3 linked regions of the Homo sapiens genome follow. The protein of the gene in region 3 interacts with the protein of the main gene of each other region in a biochemical or structural test. Each region holds a gene or a part of one and is shown on either strand. Other genes may lie near its edges.

Region 1 (3,227 bases), on a different chromosome or scaffold from region 3:
ACACCTGGCTTTAGAGTTCACACAATAGGATATAAGTCCTGTATGACTTAAATAGTGAATTTTGTCCTTAACATTTACCTCTTGTATAGTATCTGCCAGGCAGTTTTTTCTTAAACTACTGAGATGATAACTGTGAAATATTTGTGATACGTGTCATGTGTGAAAAGTTTGATGCATTTTGAGATGGAAAACTGAAATTTGGAAAAAGAAATACTTTACTATTGAGTAAACTACAATATATTTAGTGCTACTCGCAGCTATTTATTATTTTGTAGACCTGCCTTATGCACCTTACTGCCTAGATTTTTGGGAAAAAACTTTGGAAAGTGTGTTACCTATATTTCTAGCCAACTAACTCACAGAAAAACTGTTTACTTCTTCACTTTCGAAGTATTTGGCTTTTGTTAATATGCAGTTTTACTAAACAGATGGTTCATAAGACATGTGAAGCAAATTCATATTTGCAATGGGTAAAAAGTATTAAAGCCTTTCTCTTGCCTGCATATCCTATTGACCATTGGTATAGTCATCACTTTTTCATATTTTAGTGTAGTTAGAAGAATTCCTTCTTCAAACATTAAAGATCCACAAAGCAGTATTTCTAAATATGCCTTGAAGAACTAAATGAAGTGTATAGCACTTGCCTTTACTAGATATTCTTTACACTTGTACAATTATGTAGTAAATGTATGTTTACAGGGTTTATCATGTTTACAGATTAAGCTAATTTCTGTAGTCGCATTTTTATATTTTTAGTATCACTCTAGTAAAAAAACCAAATAATTTGTTTAAAATAACCAAAGAGTTGTTATAATGCATAATTTGTATTAAATTTATTACTATTTCTTATGCCTTTTAAAATACTGTTTACTATGAAGACAATGTTTTTAATTACAAATCCAGAATTCTGTAGGCAAAATGCTACAGTTCATATCTTCCTTTAACCAAACTGAAGTACATAAAGACCATGTACATGTATTCATCAAACGTTTATTGAATGCTGCGTGCCTAGCGCTGTGCTATGCTCTGGGGTAAGAGTTGTCAGCTTCAGAGAAGCTGAGTCCTGATCCTCAAGGAACTTGCAAATGTGTCTATGAATTTGTAAAACAATCAAAAGTAGGCGTAAGCAGAATAAGGCAAAAGGGAAAGTGTTCTAGGTTCCAGCACACCTGCAAAGATAAAGTGTGCCAAGACTGTATTTATATTTCATACTTATATTGTTTCATCCTTATATTGGAATGATTATATAGAAAATGCTCTTAAAAAGATTAAACCTATTTCTCAGTATGGTATCTTGGTGATTTAGGAATAATTGTAAATATATGTTACGAATCTTCTTAAATATATATATATACACACCCTGTGAGAACTGTAAAAAGTACCTCTGGTTCTTGGTTTAAGTTTGTTGGGGTATAACATGATGAGTACTCATTAGCACCTGATAGAAATCTGAAATGTGACAGTAGCAAAACCACTTTCTACTTTCCAAACACCACAGCATCAGCATGGTTTAGGGGAAGCAATTCACAGATTAATGTACCCTGCGTTTTGTCTTCACCATTGTCAACCAGCAGTCAAGGATGAGCACCAGGTATAGTCCTGGTTTGATATCTCACCAGCCATGTGAACTGAAGCAGCTTACTTAACCTCTCTGGATTCATATTTCTTCATCTGTCAAATGAGAGTAATCATGCCCACCCTCATTGTCATGCCAGATTGTCAGAAGTTCCAGACAGATGAGAAAGCAAAAAGTACTTTGTAAAGTGTTATACAATCAGAAGGTGCTTTGTGCTGACCGTCAGATTGTGTCAAGTCAGGTGTGCAAATTGACCACACTCCCAAAGAATCATTTAAAAGTAAAGTGACTTCTAAGAGACAAGGAAGTAGGAACATTTCTGATATTAAATATATAAATAATATGGATACACATGTGTATATCTGTATATGGATCTTACCATCATAATTCATTTTCTTCATATCAGCAAAGTAATAGTAATGTGGGCCAATGCATTTTGGAAATGTCCTCATTATGTAGAATGGAATGTGAAAATTATTTTTGTTAAAACAGGATTTTGCCACAATTATTTAAATATTATGTTTGTGAACTATCTAAGCATGAGAAAATACAAAGCTTTCTTTGTATCTGGCTGATACTCATTTGGATGATTCTGTGACTCATAGAACATGATGTTAAATGAGACCAGACTCAACTGCCACCAGTCCCCAGCTGCAGACCTTCATCCCCTTCATCTCCCACTAGGGGCTCGTGGTCTGGAAGAAACATCTATCAAGCAACACAGCCCCTTATCCCAGATAGAAAAGTGTCTCAAATGCATTCTACTGCGGGACAGTCAGTAGGATCATTTTCATAAAGCAAGGACATCATATGTTTCTAGAAATTACAAGCATATAACTTTAGCCTACAATCTCTTATTAAAAATTTTTAACAAAATTGTATTACAAATGCATTTCATCAGAACTCAAATTTAAATGGTGTTTGTTTTGGGTTTTTATTTATAATGCTGAAGTTATTCCATATAAGTATCAAGTTAAACACAATTCATTTTGATTATAAACTATTTGACTTTTTAAAATCTTCTGACACAGTAAATATATATATCAAGATTGATGTATCAAAATTTATTGCACACTTTAAAGTGTAAAATCATTTTTTAAAATCTTGAATCCACAAATAAAGTTCTATTCTGATTTTAAAAAACAAAACAAAACTGTGGTTCATTATAAAATAGGAGTGTTTCCAAGTCAGTATGCTGGGTGATGTCTTCTGGTCTAGTTCCTCACAGCAGCACGTTAAATTTTCAGTGCAATCCTAAACTTATTACCTGATGAACTAACATGATTATAAACTCTCAACCACAGATAATTAATTTCCACTTTACAAAAAGGTCGTATTGCATAAGTCTGGTTGTTAGTGAAATAGCCAGAAGATAAAAATAATAGCTAAAAATGGACTGGATTTCAGGCACCTTGCTGCTCATCAAAGAAGCCATTCTTGTAGCCAACCACTATTTACAACATCATTTCTATGAGAAAAAGAGTTCGGAGTGTTAATTCAGAACGAAGTGTCTTTTCCTCCTTCCTCTCAGGCATGAGAATTAGTTTCCCAGTTAGAAGGGAATCCACTCCCACCCACTCAAGCCAGCCTGGGAAGGTGCTGTTCCAGCCCCCTGTTTCTGCCATAATCCAGGCCATAGCTTTTAATTTTG
Region 2 (6,992 bases), on a different chromosome or scaffold from region 3:
CACATTTATAATTTTTTATTTTTCTAGGAAATACATTTTAAAAAGAAAAAAGTGCTGGGTTTCAAGTCAAGGTTAAGTGGGAAAAAAAAAGACAAAAAGGTGAAACTTTTTTTCTTTTTCTTTTTCTTTTTTTTGAGACAGGGTCTCACTCTGTCACCTAGGCTAGAGTGCAATGAGTGGCACGATCACAACTCACTGCAGCCTCCACCTCCCCAGGCTTGGGTGATCCTCCCACCTCAGCCTCCTGAGTAGCCAGGCGGGCGCCACTGCACCTGGCTAATTTTTGTATTTTTTGTAGAGACAGGGTTTCACCATGTTGCCCAGGCTGGTCCCAAATTCCTGGGCTCAAGCAATCTATCCACCTTGACCTCCCAAAGTGCTGGAATTATAGGCATGAGCCACCATGTCTGACCAACTATTTATAATTACGTTGTATTTAACCCAATAAATCCAAAATGTTATCATACATGTTTATACATTATATGATCGTTTACTATAACATAAAAAGTATCAATGAGACATTTTACTTTTCTTCATGCTAAGTCTTCAAAATCCAGAATGTATTTTATGCTCACAGCATAGCTCCAGTGCTCAGCAGCCCCATGTGGCTAGTGTACACCATACTGGACTCTACAACAATGCCTGGCAAAGACAGAGTGGGTACTTATAAATATTCACTGAATGAAAGAATGTTTTCCCAGGAAGAGGAAGCTATGGTAGAGTACAGCGTTTTCTAAACTTCATTTACTCACATTCTACATTCACAACTTTTTCTGTGTGATCTTTTTCCTTAAAATGTTACACTTTTTATTCCTGAAAAATTATGTAAAAATAAAACTTTCAGTTGGGCATGGTGACTTACACCTGTAATTGCAACACTTTGAGAGGCCGAGGTGGGAGGATCGCTTGAGCCCCGGAGTTTGAAAACAGCCCGGGCAACATAGCAAAACCCCTGTCTCTACAAAAATTAGCCAGGCGAGGTGGCACCCACCTGTAGTCCCAGCTGTTTGGGAGGCAGACATGGGAGGATCACCCGAGCCCAGGCAGGTCAAGGTTACAGTGAGCCGTGATTGTGCCACTGCACTCCAGCCTGGGCAACAGAGTAAGATCCTGTCTCAAAATAAAATAAAAATAAAATTTTCTATTGTGTCAATAAATGAAAAAGAATGGATCTAAGGATTAAGGGTCTGGGCTTGAGTCCCTACTCATTTACTAGCTCTGAAATCTAAAGTAAGGACTTCATTAAGCCTCAGTCTCTTCATGTGATATAGGGACAATACTGACCATCCCAATTTCAAAGGGAAGGTTAAGTGAGATGTTGGTATACGCTCTTTGTAAATGGGAAAGTAATCATGAAGTGAAAGAGACTGAGAAGCCAATCCAAGCCTTTCTCTCGAGCCTGTTTTCATATGGACCAATGACACAGATAATCACAAGCTTCTCTGACAAGAAAAAGAGTAGAAGACTTGGGTTCAAATCCTTTGTCACCACTTACGCCGGTGTGACTTTTAGAAATGCATTTATTCACCAAATATTTATCAAGTGCTCACAACATGCCAGGCACTAGGCTAGCAGCCAAATAAAATATGAAACCTGCCCTTGAAGGATTTGCAATCTAGCAGGAAGAGGCCAGCAAACAAGAAAGAGCAATAAATTGTTTTAAAAAATCAAGTCGTCTCTCGTAAGTCTGTTTGTTCCCTGTGAAATGAGAATACATCTTCCCAACCTCACTCATAGGCGCTGCTGCAAAAACTAATTTTTAAATGTTTGTCAAATAACTCCAAAAACTTGAACTCATAATACATTAGGAAAGTACTTTTTCCTACTTGTAACCCAAAACGATGCTGGCTGCTGTGAATGTCCAGTTTGAACATTCGTTCCAGTTACACTGCACTCATGAAACTCCTTTTGCTTCTGCAAATTTTAGTAAACATGAGAAACAGGAAGATGAACAGGCTTTAACACAAGTATTCAATCTCAAAATCATGATCCAGGTCACAGTTCTAAGGAACATAACACAGACCTCTCAGGCACCCTACCTAGTTACAGTTCGTCAAGATAAGCAGTCACAAGATAAGCTAAGGGAAACTGAATAATTTAAACGGAAGAAAGAGAAAAGTCATAAAGCAGTCTAGGTAGACACTTCTCTGTCCAAGATTTCAGCAGTCACTATGTTGCTGAGGTAACGCTGGGCTAGGTCAACAGTGTAAGCTAAAAGCCATTTTACAGGCAAAGTGCCCACACTTATTTTTTTAATTTATTTTCTTTTTTTGTTTTTTAAAGCCTCGATGATGGCCCGTTCAGGGAAAATCTCAAAGAAAAATGAGCTGAAGGGCTAGGCTCCCAAGAAGTGGAAACCCTACCCACGCAGGACTAAGTGGGCGCGAGGGAAGCAAGACGATCAAGATTCTGTGATCCCTCCTGAAGTTTAAAAACTGAATGGGACCGTCATCAAAGTCTCGGGTAACAATCATTTCCAAACAGGAAGGAAGGGAGAGACTCTCAGAGGGGGTCCAGGCAGCATCTTTTTCCCTCTGGCTCCACGCCATAAACCCATTTTCAGGCACCCCCTTCCAGCTCAGTTCCAAGTCGCCCCTTCCCCTGGTCCCGATCCCTCCACAAAGATCGCTCCTCTCCATGCCTGGGAACCTAAGCTCCTCTCCCCTTCCGGGAGGACTCGCTCCAGCTGCACCCTTGGCGGCCGGGGCACCCATTTCGGAGCAACCCCCGCGCGGGCCGCGGCGCGCCCACCCCACTCGGGCGGGAGCCGGGACACCCCTCCTCGGAGGCCGGAACCGCCGCGCCAGGCCCCTCCCACAGGAAGCCGCCGCCCCCCGACGCCCGGGCCGCGCCGCCCCCGGCCCACCCCGCGCCGCCCGCCGCCCCCGGCCCGCCCCGTGCAGGCAGCCAGCCCACCGCGCCCCCCGCGCCAGCGCTCGCTACCTGCCGTGGCCACAGAAGCGGCGCCGAACTCCTCTCCTACTTCCGCCTTCCACCGCCCGCACTCGGGCCGGGTCACGTGACCGCGCGCGGTCACCTGACCCGGAAGAGGCTGGCCAGGCTCGCAGGTGCGGGCCACCTAGGCCTGGCCTGGGCACCTCTGGCCTCGAGGAGGCCTTTTTATCGTCTCTGTAGTTGAAAGTGGAAGGGTTTCTGCTCACCGGATGGTCCCAGGCAATCAAATAAATTGAGGGCTCACTGAATGCCACCTACTCTGCCCATCAACCTTATAGAGGCAGGGACAGGTACTAGCCCCATTTTACAGGTGAAACGAGACCTTCAGACTGTTAAGTCAGCAAATACTTAATTGAGCTCCTTTAGTAGGGTTGCCAGATAAAGTACAGGACACCCACTTAAATTTGAATTTCAGATAAACAACAGTGTAATATGTATGTCCCAAATACAGAATGGGACATATTTATACTAAAAAAAGTATTTTTTGATTATCTGAAGATCAAATTGAATTGAGTATCTGTATTTCTATTTCCTGGCAACCTTATGCCTATTATGTGCCAGGCACTGTTCTAAGATCCAGGACCACAAACATCTCAGCCTTTGTGGGGCATCTGTCCTTGTGACATGAAGCAAAAGTACAAAAGCTTAAAAACTCCTGCTTGGCTCCATAAAAAGCCCCTCCACACTAATCCAATCGCATTCCCTTAATCTACAACTACAGGGCACAGAGAACTTAATGAATTATAATCCAGGTAGGTAGGTAGGTAGGTAGGTGGATAGATAGATGATATTTTTTTTTTTTTTTTTGAGATGGAGCCTCGCTCTGTCGCCCAGGCTGGAGTGCAGTGGTGCAGTCTCAGCTGACTGCAACCTCCGTCTCGCCGGTTCATGCAATTCTCCTGCCTCAGCCTCCCGAGTAGCTGGGATTACAGGCGTGCACCACCACGCCTGGCTAATTTTTGCATTTTTAGTAGAGACAGGGTTCCTCCATGTTGACCAGTCTGGTCTCGAACACCTGACTTCAAATGATCCGCCCACCTTGGCCTCCCAAAGTGCTGGGATTACAGGCATGAACCACCGCACCTGGCAGAGAAATATTTTTTTTAAGAGATGGGTCTGGATAGGTTGCTTTGGCTGGGCTCGAACTCCCAGCTTCAAGCAGTCCTCTTGCTTCAGCCTCCCAAGTAGCTGAGACTACAGGCGAATGCCACTGTGCCTGCCCAATAACTTTATTTATTTATTTATTTATTTATTTATTTGCTTGCTTGAGACAGAGTTTCACTCTTGTAGCCCAGGCAGGAGTGCAGTGGCTCAATCTTGGCTCACTGCAACCTCTGCCTCCCAGGTTCAAGCAATTCTCCTTCCTCAGCCTCCTGAGTAGCTGGGACTACAGGCACCCACCACCATGCCTGGCTAATTTTTGTATTTTTAATAGAGATGGGGTTTCACCATGTTGGCCAGGCTGGTCTCAAACTCCTAACCTCAGATGATCCACCTGCCTTGGCCTCCCAAAGTGCTCAGATTATAGGCGTGAGCCAATGCGCCCGGCCTCCAAGAACATTTTAAATAGACATTCTTGACTGATGTTCTGGACAAGTTGAATGAAGGCTCAGTTTAATCACCATTGATTAAAATTAATACTAATGACGTAATTAGCCTCAAAGACTTGTACTAATCTGTTATTTTTGGGTCTTCGAATTGGGATGGATTCTATCATGCATACAAATTAAATTGGCTGGTGGGGCGTGGAGGCTCACGCCTGTAATCCCAGCACTTTGGGAGGCAGAGGCAGGTGGATTACCTGAGGTCGGGAGTTCGAAACCCACTTGGCCAACCTGGTGAAACCCCATCTCTACTAAAACTACAAAAAAAAAAAAAAAAAAGATTCGCCGGGCATGGTCCGGGTGCGGGTAATCCCAGGTACTCCAGAACCTGAGGCAGGAGAATTGCTTGAACCCGGGAGGCGGAGGTGGCAGTGAGCCATGATAACGCCTCTGCACTCCAGCCTGGGCGACAGAGTGAGACTCTGTATCTAAATAAATAAATAGGTTGAACACTTAGTCTCTACTTTTTGTAGTACCACTCCAAATCCAAGAGATTAACTTTCAAGGAGATACAGTCCTGTCTTTGTACATTAAACCCTATATTAGTCTCATTTATAAAACTACTATAACTAAAACTTCTCCAGTTCCATTGATGGCAGTTTTACTAATTCTGTTCTAGATAAATTAGAGACTATTTCCTTGACTTACTAGCATTTGTTGGTTTCGGTTTGTTTTCTTCTTTCATATTTCATTTTTTATCTTTTGTTGCTTTTTTTTAACAACCCTGCAGAAAAGATTTAGTGGCATCTGAGTAAGTGTTCACCAAAGGGGAGAAGGGACAAGCAAAGAGCACACACTGCACATTAAAAGAATAAAATCTGACAGGGTGCGGTGGCTGGCACCTGTAATCCCAGTACTTTGGGAGGCCAAGGCGGGCAGATCAGACTGTCAGGGGCTCGAGATCAGACTGGGCAACATGGTGAAAACCCATCTCTACAAAAAATACAAATATTAGCTGGGCATGGTGGCACACACCCGTAGTCCCAGCTAATCAGGAGCCTGAGGCTTGAGAATCGCTTGAACCTGGGAGGCGGAGGTTGCAGTGAGCCAAGATTGCACACTGGACTCCAGCCTGGATGACAGGGTGAGACTCTGTCTCAAAAAAAAAAAATTGATATGATAAACTAGAAAATGAGAAATAGCCTCCAGCCATACTCTGTTACGGCAGGTAGCACAGGCACGTTCTAGATAATGAAGAGACTGAGTGGTGAGAAAGGTTGAGCCAGGTGCAATGGCTCACGCCTGTAATTCTAGCACTTTGGGAGGCCAAGGCAGGTGGATCACCGTACATCAGGAGTTCGAGACCATCTGGCCAATATGGTGAAACCCCATCTGTACTAAAAATACAAAAATTAGCCAGGCGTGGTGGCGGGCACCCATAATCTCAGCTACACAGGAGGCTGAGGCAGGAGAATTGTTGAACCTGGGAGGCAGAGGTGGCAGTGAGCTGAGATCGCACCACTGTGCTCCAGCCTGGGCGACGAGAGCAAAACTCAGTCCCCTTCCCGCCACCCCAAAAAAAGAGAAAGACTGAATTTGGGTAATTGCTGAAAGGCAATATTCAGTAGCACTGAAGGATTTTTGGGGTAGGACAGATAAATGACAATTGAGGAATCCAGCTGGCGTGAAGACTTCATGAAGAAAGTTTGCATGAAGACCCAAGTCGACATTCAGCAAAATTCACCGGATCTTATAATCATAAAATTTCAGATTTGCAAGGAAACGTAGAAGTCACTAAATACACCTTCTGTTCAATTCAGCAAGGAATTATTTGCTACCAAATTATGTGTGTTGCTTAGGGAGGTGGGGTGAGACTATTAAGACAAATTAGACAGACTCTGGCCCCACGTTGCTCAAAATGAAGTGAAGGCACATAAGCAGCAGTCAGTATAACAGAATGGATAATTAGGTGGCTCAGGGACAGCACCGTGTCTCACACCTGTAATCCCAGCACTTTGGGAGGCCAAGGCTAAAGGACTGCTTGAACCTGGGAGTTTCAGACCAGCCTGGGCAACATGATGAGACTCTCATCTCTACAAAAGTAAAAATGAAAAAACTAGCTGGGCATGGTGGTGTGGGCCTGTGGTGCCAGCTACTCGAGAGGCTGAGGTAGGAGGCTCACTTGAGCCTGGGAGTTCAAGGTTGCAGTGAACTATGATCATGCCACTGCACACCAGCCTGGGCAACAGAGAGAGACCGTGTCTCAAAAAAAAAAAAAAGAAAGAAAGAAAGAAAGAGAGAGAGAGAAAAGGAAAGGAAAGAAAAAAGAAGAGAAGAGAGAAAAAAGTGGCTCTGAATCAGTTTGTCTGGGTGTTACGTTATTTTCACCACTTACTGACCATGTCAGCTACACCTAGTGGCTTTAGTTAGCTATCCCTTGTCTGTAAAACAGTACCTATCTTGGCCGGGCGCGGTGGCTCACGCCTGTAATCC
Region 3 (7,361 bases):
TGTAAAATTTCCCAAACCCCGCTTATAAAGCCCCCAAATGATCAACATGGTAGCAGAGCTACAGGGCTCTGAAGAGGCCATCATCCCTCAAGCAAGTTAGATAATCTGGCTTAACTCTTCTATTTTCTTTATTTTTTTTTTTTTTTTTTGAGACGGAGTCTCACTCTGTCACCCAGGCTGGCGTGCAGTGGCGTGATCTCGGCTCACTGCAAGCTCCGCCTCCTGGGTTCATGCCATTCTCCTGCCTCAGTCTCCCAAGTAGCTGGGACTACAGGCGCCCGCCACCACGACTGGCTAATTTTTTGTATTTTTAGTAGAGACGGGGTTTCACCGTGTTAGCCAGGATGGTCTCGATCTCCTGACTTCGTGATCCACCTGCCTCGGCCTCCCAAAGTGCAGGGATTACAGGCGTGAGCCACTGCGCCCGGCCAACTCTTCTATTTTCTTTTAAGTCCTTGTGATAGATGTTCTGTTTTTGCTGGTTTGTTTTTCAAGCCTAAAATATAAACATGTCTAAGAGATGACTGTACAGATCACAATAGGACGTCCTTCGGGGTTCTTTTAAACCTGGGTTCTTAAGCGGGGTTTGCAGGAAAGTCCATGAAGCCCTTGAGATGATCACGTATGTCATATGTGCATTTTTCTGGGAGGAGAGTCCACAGCTTTCATCATTGTCAAAGGAGTTCACGACTTGAAGAGTAACGTTCACTATTTTAATTATAATTTTTTATTTTTTTGAGACGGAGTTTCACTCTTGTTGCCCAGGCTGCAGTGCAACATAGCGTGATCTCAGCTCACTGCAACCTCCACCTCCTGCGTTCAAGCGATTCTCCTGTCTCAGCCTTCCAAGTAGCTGGGATTACAGGCATGCGCCACCACGCCTGGCTAATTTTTTGTGTTTAGTAGAGACGAGGTTTTACCATGTTGGTCAGGCGGGTTTCAAACTCCTGACCTCAAGTGATCCACCCACCTCAGCCTCCCAAAGTGCTGGGATTACAGGCGTGAGCCACCATGCCCAGCCTAATTATCAAATTTTGGACACTGGACTTAACACTTCAATTGTTATAGATACAACTTTTTCAGACAGCAGGCTGAAGCACTTTCTAAAACAGCAGGCTGAAGGCACACCTTACTTAGCAGGACTGAGCCCTAAGCCAGGTAGAAGGCCGAGCAGGATAGATACATTCTTGTCTCAGAAAGTTCCACAGAGACAGAAAGAAAAACAGTCCCCAGAGATGTTGCCAAATGGCACGAAAAGCTGGCCAGGCCTGGGAACTGACTCACACACAGAGATGCAACAAAACAGTGTGAGGTGTCTCTGATTACATGATAAAAAGGTTCACACGGTTCTGTTTGTCTTCTGCCTCCCCCCATATATCACAACTTTCTCTGACTGGGGAAGGGTAAGTGGGAAACAACTGGTATAAGCAAAGGAAAATGGCTGGGCGCGGTGGCTCACTCCTGTAATCCCAATACTTTGGGAGGCCGAGGAGGGTGGATCACGAGGTCAGGAGTTCGAGACCAGCCTGCCCAACATGGTGAAACCCTATGTCTACTAAAAATACAAAAAATTAGCTGGGTGTAGTGGCGGGTGCCTGTAATGCCAACTACTGGGGAGGCTGAGGCAGGATAATCGCTTGAACCCAGGAGGCGGAGGTTGCAGTGAGCTGAGATCGTGCCACTGCACTCCAGCCTGGGCGACAGAGCAAGCCTCCATCTAAAAAAAAAAAAAAAAAAAAAAAAAAAAGAGAAGAGAAGTACTGCTCAGAGAAAAGAAGGAATTACCAGCAACAGGCTGGGCCCATGAAACTCTGAGCGGGTAAGATAGAGGGAAAGTGAGCATGCTGGGTCACTCTAGGCATTTTCCTCTGACTCATCAAACATTCCCAAGTCACAGGGCAGCTGGATGCTGGCCTTAGCTGGGTACAGGGCTCTGACTCCACGATGTCTCCTTTGGGGACTCAGGTGCCTCCTAAGCTCCTTCTGCCTTCAAGAGGCAATTCAGGGTCGGCATAGTTCAACCCAGGGCTGGCTGGTCTGATTTTCAATACCCAAGGAACAAAAGGAGACAGAGGCCATTTAAGGCTTCTCTTGGCAGAGACTGGAGGAGAGACAGGATGCAATGAGCAAGGGGTGGGGAGGATGGAGTGGAAAGAACCTTGAATTAGGAGAGCTCTGCCTTCCGAGGTGACCCAAACCAACAGGCATTCAAGAGAGAGGCAAGGGAATGACTACGGACCCACACAGTGCCAGGAACTGTTAGACACCTGACAAACGTCATCTGTTTAATTTCACCTCTGGGACCTCAGTTTTTTACCGGGAACCTGAACAGTTCTGGAACATACTGGAAGCCTGTATGCTGGTGGTTAATCCTATTAACTTTGGAGTCAAGACTCCTTTCCTGGAATTACCACCTCTGTTACTTACACAGTTGCGATCTCGGGCAAGTTACTTAACCTTTCTGCCCTCCACTTTCCCTACCTGTGAAATGTGGACAGTAGTAGATTATACTGCACAGAATTTATTAAATAAGGTAGAAAAGGCGCAGAGCCTGACACGTAGTAACGTTGTAGACATCCAATAAGTGACAATTATTTTTGTTTGGGGCTCCTCCCAGCTACTGAAATCACAAGTCTGGGAAGGGGTTCAAGAATCACCCCTAGGCCCCACCGGGGGCCCCATACCAGGTCCCCATGCAGACGTCCCACCCCCGCCTCCCAGCTGATCACAACCTCCCGGGCTCTCCCCCACGGCCCACCCACCTTCCTCCAACCCCGCCCCCAGCCGTTCCCCACCAACCTCACTCCATCAGTGCTCCCTCTTCAGGGGCTTATTCCCCACCACCCACCACCCACCGCCCACTTCCTCGACACCCGAACTTTGGTCCTCCAGGATCCTTCCGCAGTGTTTTCACCTCTCGGTGTTATTGACGATCACTCCGCCGCCCTCCGAGTGATTCTTGTTGAGCGCCATAGTCTCTCCAACAGGGGTCCCGAGACTCAAAACGCAATGAGCTTGCGCCCCTCTTCGCCCCGCCCCTAGTGGCGTCTTCTTATTAGAGTCAGCCAATCAAAGCTCGAGTGCGGAGGCTGGCCCAAACACCTGACCCGAACGTCACGTGGTAATAGTTTACTCCCTCCTTCCAGTTCCTCCTGCGCAACAAACAAGATGAAGACTACAATTCCCAGCAGGCAACGCCCCCGCAGCCTCGGCCTGTCCCTATGCTGGAGGAAGGATGCATTCTGGAACTTGTAGTCTCCTGGATCATAGGCCTGAATTGGTTCCACATTTTGCGTAACCAATCGGCTTGTGCCATCCCCACCCCGCCTCTTCAGCCGGACGGAAATAAACAGTTCCGCTCCTGGCAGGGGCGCGATCTTGGGGACTCCGGCAGCGCGTTAAGGGAAGTCCTGCTGGTCGAATGCGACCTGGACATGGCGTGGGAGCGCCGAGCTGTCCCCTTGTGGATGGGGAGCTTTCGTTCACTCAGCAGACGTTTATGGGGCGCATGCGTGACTCTGGGGCGTTTAGCTGAGCCGGAGGCCCCGGCTCTTGGGGACGCGGTGGGCTGGCGGCGTCGGATCACCCCGCCATCCATCTCACCACTCCCAGCGCTGAGCCCGGGGGGCGGGGAGAGTCCCTCATGGGAAGGGGAGGCCGTGTGCCCCGCCTGGCTCCCACCACGTTCGCAGGCCGGCCGGGCGCCCCTCGCAGCCCCCTCTCCGGCCTCGCGGTGGCGCCGCTCCCCCCTTAGCGCCCAGCGGGGTCCCGGCCGGAAGACTGAAGGCTGAGTGGGACTGGGCACGGCGCGAAACCGGCATCCTGATAACTAGGATTTACAGAATAAGGCTGACTCCTGTCAGCTCGTGACCCAGCCCTGGGCGTCCTCCACGGGGCAGCTGTCATTCCCTAACCGCCCCCCACCAAACCCCTGCACCTCCGAGCTGAATCCGTGAGGCGGAGAGAGGGGGCTGCACTTCCCACGTGGTAGTTCCGGTACTCGTTAATGTTAAGGAATTAGAGTTTGCTTTTCAGTAGACAGCTGCTTTCCTGACTGTGGTGGCCAACCTCTAGATCCACCTGCTTGACTTCGCTTTCCAGGGAGGTCTCCTATGTGAAGAAACAAAGCTGCCTCACTAGAAAAGATCAGGAAACAGCAGCGTTCTGTGAGGTCCTGTGCAATACCAGGTTGGACCTTGCGGGACAAGTACAGTGGGTTAAGGATAGTCATAATGAAATCTGCCCCAATGGTTAGATGTATTTTGGCGCCTGCAATCTCTGCAGTCTTTAAAAAGAATTAAGTCAGACTATGTGCTGATATGGGAAGATCATCAAGGGTTATTAAGCACAGAATGCTGTATACATATAGTTGTATTTGTATAAAAAATAGGATCTAGATAGAAAATTTTTGCAAAGATCCATCAGAAAATGTCTGTGGCATTTTTGAGACATGGGTCTAGGAATTTGGGGTGGATTGGTGACTCGGTATGTCAGTATGCATTGTACTCTTTGGTACTGTTTAATTTTTTTTTCCTATGTGCGTTTAAAATATAAATTTAGGCCGGGCGCGTGGCTCACGCCTGTAATCCCAGCACTCTGGGAGGCCGAGGCGGGCGGATCACGAGGTCAGGAGATCGAGACCATCCTGGCTAACAGAGTGAAACCCCTTATTAAAAATACAAAAAAAAAAAAAAAATTAGCCGGACGTGGTGGCGGGCGGCTGTAGTCCCAGCTACTTGGGAGGCTGAGGCAGGAGAATGGCGTGAACCCGGGAGGCAGAGCTTGCAGTGATCTGAGATTGCGCCACTGCACTCCAGCCTGGGTGACAGAGTGAGACTCCATCTCAAAATAAAATAAAATAAAAATAAATAAATAATATGTAAATTTAAAAAAGAAAAGCAGGCCGGGGTTTGTGGCTCACGCCAAAGGCGTGAGCCAAATTCCAGCACTTTGGGAGGCCAAGGCAGGTGGATCACCTGAGGTCAGGAGTTCAAGACCAGCCTGGCCAACATGGTGAAACTCCATCTCTACTAAAAATACAAAAATTAGCCGGGCATGGTGGCGGGCACCTGTAATCCCAGCTACTCGGGAGGCTGAGGCAGGAGAATCGCTTGAACCTGGGAGGCAGATGTTACAGTGAGCCAAGATCATGCCACTGCATTCCAGCCTAGGCGACAGAGCAAGACTCCATCTCAGAAAAAAGAAAAAGAAAAGCAAAATCCAGGCCTGGTGCCGTGCCTGTAATCCCAGCACTTTGGGAGGCCAAGGTGGGTGGATCACTTGAGGCCAGGAGTTTGAGACCAGCCTGGACTACATGGCAAAATCCCATCTCTATAAAAATACAAAAATTAGGCCGGGCGCGGTGGCTCACACCTGTAATCCCAGCACTTTGGGAGGCCAAGGTCGGCGGATTACCTGAGGTCAGGAGTTCAAGACCAGCTGGCTAACATGGAGAAACCCCGTTTCTACTAAAAAATACCAAAAACTAGCCGGGTGTGGTGTTGTGCGCCTGTAAGCGCCTGTAATCCGCGCGCCTGTAATCCCAACTACTCGGGAGGCTGCGGCAGGAGAATCCCTTGAACCTGGGAGGTGGAGGTTGCAGTGAGCCGAGATCACGCCATTGCACTCCAGCTTGGGCAACAAGAGCAAAACTCCATCCCAAAAAAAAAAAAAAAAACGCAAAAATACAAAAATTAGTTGTGCATGGTGGCGTGGTTCCTGTAATCCCAGCTAATAGGGAGGCTGAGACATGAGAATTGTTTGAACCTGAGAGGCGAAGGTTTCAGTGAGCCAAGATCGTCCCAGTGCACTCCAGCCTGGGCAACAAAGGAAGATTCTGTCTCAAAGAAAAGAAAAAGAAAAAAAGGAAAATCCCCCCAGCAAAGAGCAGGCAGCATTGGCTGCTCTAAGGACCATAAATGGGAAGATGGGGACAACCTGCCCACCCCTCTCCCACCCCTTTGCCAAATACGTTGGAGACAGGAGCAAGTTCAGGTTTTGCCAGGCCTTGAAGCTTATACAATTTTGGAGGCTGTCTTGGTTGTTTATGTTTTTGTTTTTTGAGACAGGGTCTCATTCTGTCACCCAGGTGCGATCATAGCTCACTGCTTCCTTGGAACTCCTGGACTCAAGTGATCTGGAGGCTCTTTTTAAGAAATAAAATACACAGGCCGGGCGCAGTGGCTCATGCCTGTAATCCCAGCACTTTGGGAGGCTGAGGAAGGTGGATCACCTGAGGTCAGGAATTTGAGACCAGCCTGGCCAACGTGGTGAAACCCCGTCTTTACTAAAAATACAAAAAATTAGCTGGGTGTGGTAGCGGTCACCTGTAATCCCAGCTACTCGGGAGGCTGAGGCAGGAGAATCGCTTGAACCCTGGAGACGGAGGTTGCAGTGAGCTGAGATCAAGCCACTGCACTCCAGCCTGGGCAACGAGAGGAAAGCTCTAACTCAAAAAAAAAAAACAACCCCACAATTATTCATTCACAATACTGTGGCTACAGTGAGGCCTCCTGACAGGAGGGGAAATGACAAGAAGAGGAAGTTGCAGTGCAGAGATAACAAGCTTGACCAGCTCCGGCTACAATGTCCAGAATTTCTAAGTTTTACAAAAACATATGACCATGTGAACACACTTCCTGGGCGGCTCCCATGACTTTGGGGCTGGAACGTACCAGAACTCAAAACTCAAACCGAAGACTTCAACAATGGTTTATTGCTGAACCAGGTGAGCAGCAGGAGGCTCCCCTGGGCCCAGGTCTCAGTACTCAGACCTCTCCTCTGGCCTCATACTCCTGTCTGCCTGTCTCCAGATCTCTTTTTCACTGCAGTATGATGCTCATATTCTCCACACTGGAGCACATCTTAGCGGTGCGCTAAGGAGGAGTGCAGGTTGGCCTCAGATACCAGCAGGCAAGGTCTGGGGCAGCTGAGCCCCTGAACTGGTCACCTGTTTTTTCTGTTTATAATTTTATTTATTATTTATGTATTTATTTTTGATACAGGGTCTTGCCCGTCTCCTGGGGTGGAGTGCATTGACATGATCTCTGCTCACTGCAGCCTCCGCCTCCCGGGTTCAAGCAATTCTCATGCCTCAGCCTCCAGAGTAGCTGGGACTACAGAATCGTGCCACCACGCCCAGCTAATCTTTGTATTTTTAGTAGAGATGGGGTTTCACCATGTTGGCCAAGCTGGTCTCAAATTCCTGACCTCAAGTCATCCGCCCACCTAACACTCCCGAAAGTGTTAGGATTACAGGTATGAGCCACCGCCCCCGCCTGGTCGCCTCTTGACTCCCAATAAGATGAATCTGTTTGCCCCAGTGAGCCAAATAAATACCATTTTCACTGAACAAATCATTT

What was found. Proteins that work in one complex are often made in the same cells at the same time.
Region 1: of the proteins of WBP2 (region 3) and NEDD4, one has a biochemical effect on the other in vitro, tested with the Homo sapiens proteins (6 studies listed by BioGRID, with this or other methods).
Region 2: the proteins of WBP2 (region 3) and WWP2 form a complex in vitro, tested with the Homo sapiens proteins (4 studies listed by BioGRID, with this or other methods).

The regions. Positions count from the first base shown.
Region 1 is NC_000015.10:55,826,419-55,829,645, reverse strand, and holds the end of NEDD4 (E3 ubiquitin-protein ligase NEDD4), read left to right. Parts: 3' UTR 1-2,724; downstream 2,725-3,227. UniProt on the Homo sapiens protein: E3 ubiquitin-protein ligase which accepts ubiquitin from an E2 ubiquitin-conjugating enzyme in the form of a thioester and then directly transfers the ubiquitin to targeted substrates. Specifically ubiquitinates 'Lys-63' in target proteins.
Region 2 is NC_000016.10:69,758,343-69,765,334, reverse strand, and holds the start of WWP2 (NEDD4-like E3 ubiquitin-protein ligase WWP2), read right to left. Parts: upstream 3,004-6,992; 5' UTR 2,944-3,003; intron 1-2,943. UniProt on the Homo sapiens protein: E3 ubiquitin-protein ligase which accepts ubiquitin from an E2 ubiquitin-conjugating enzyme in the form of a thioester and then directly transfers the ubiquitin to targeted substrates.
Region 3 is NC_000017.11:75,852,325-75,859,685, forward strand, and holds the start of WBP2 (WW domain-binding protein 2), read right to left. Parts: upstream 3,012-7,361; 5' UTR 2,974-3,011; coding exon 2,915-2,973; intron 2,821-2,914; exon of another isoform or gene 2,800-2,820; intron 1-2,799. UniProt on the Homo sapiens protein: Acts as a transcriptional coactivator of estrogen and progesterone receptors (ESR1 and PGR) upon hormone activation. In presence of estrogen, binds to ESR1-responsive promoters. Synergizes with YAP1 to enhance PGR activity.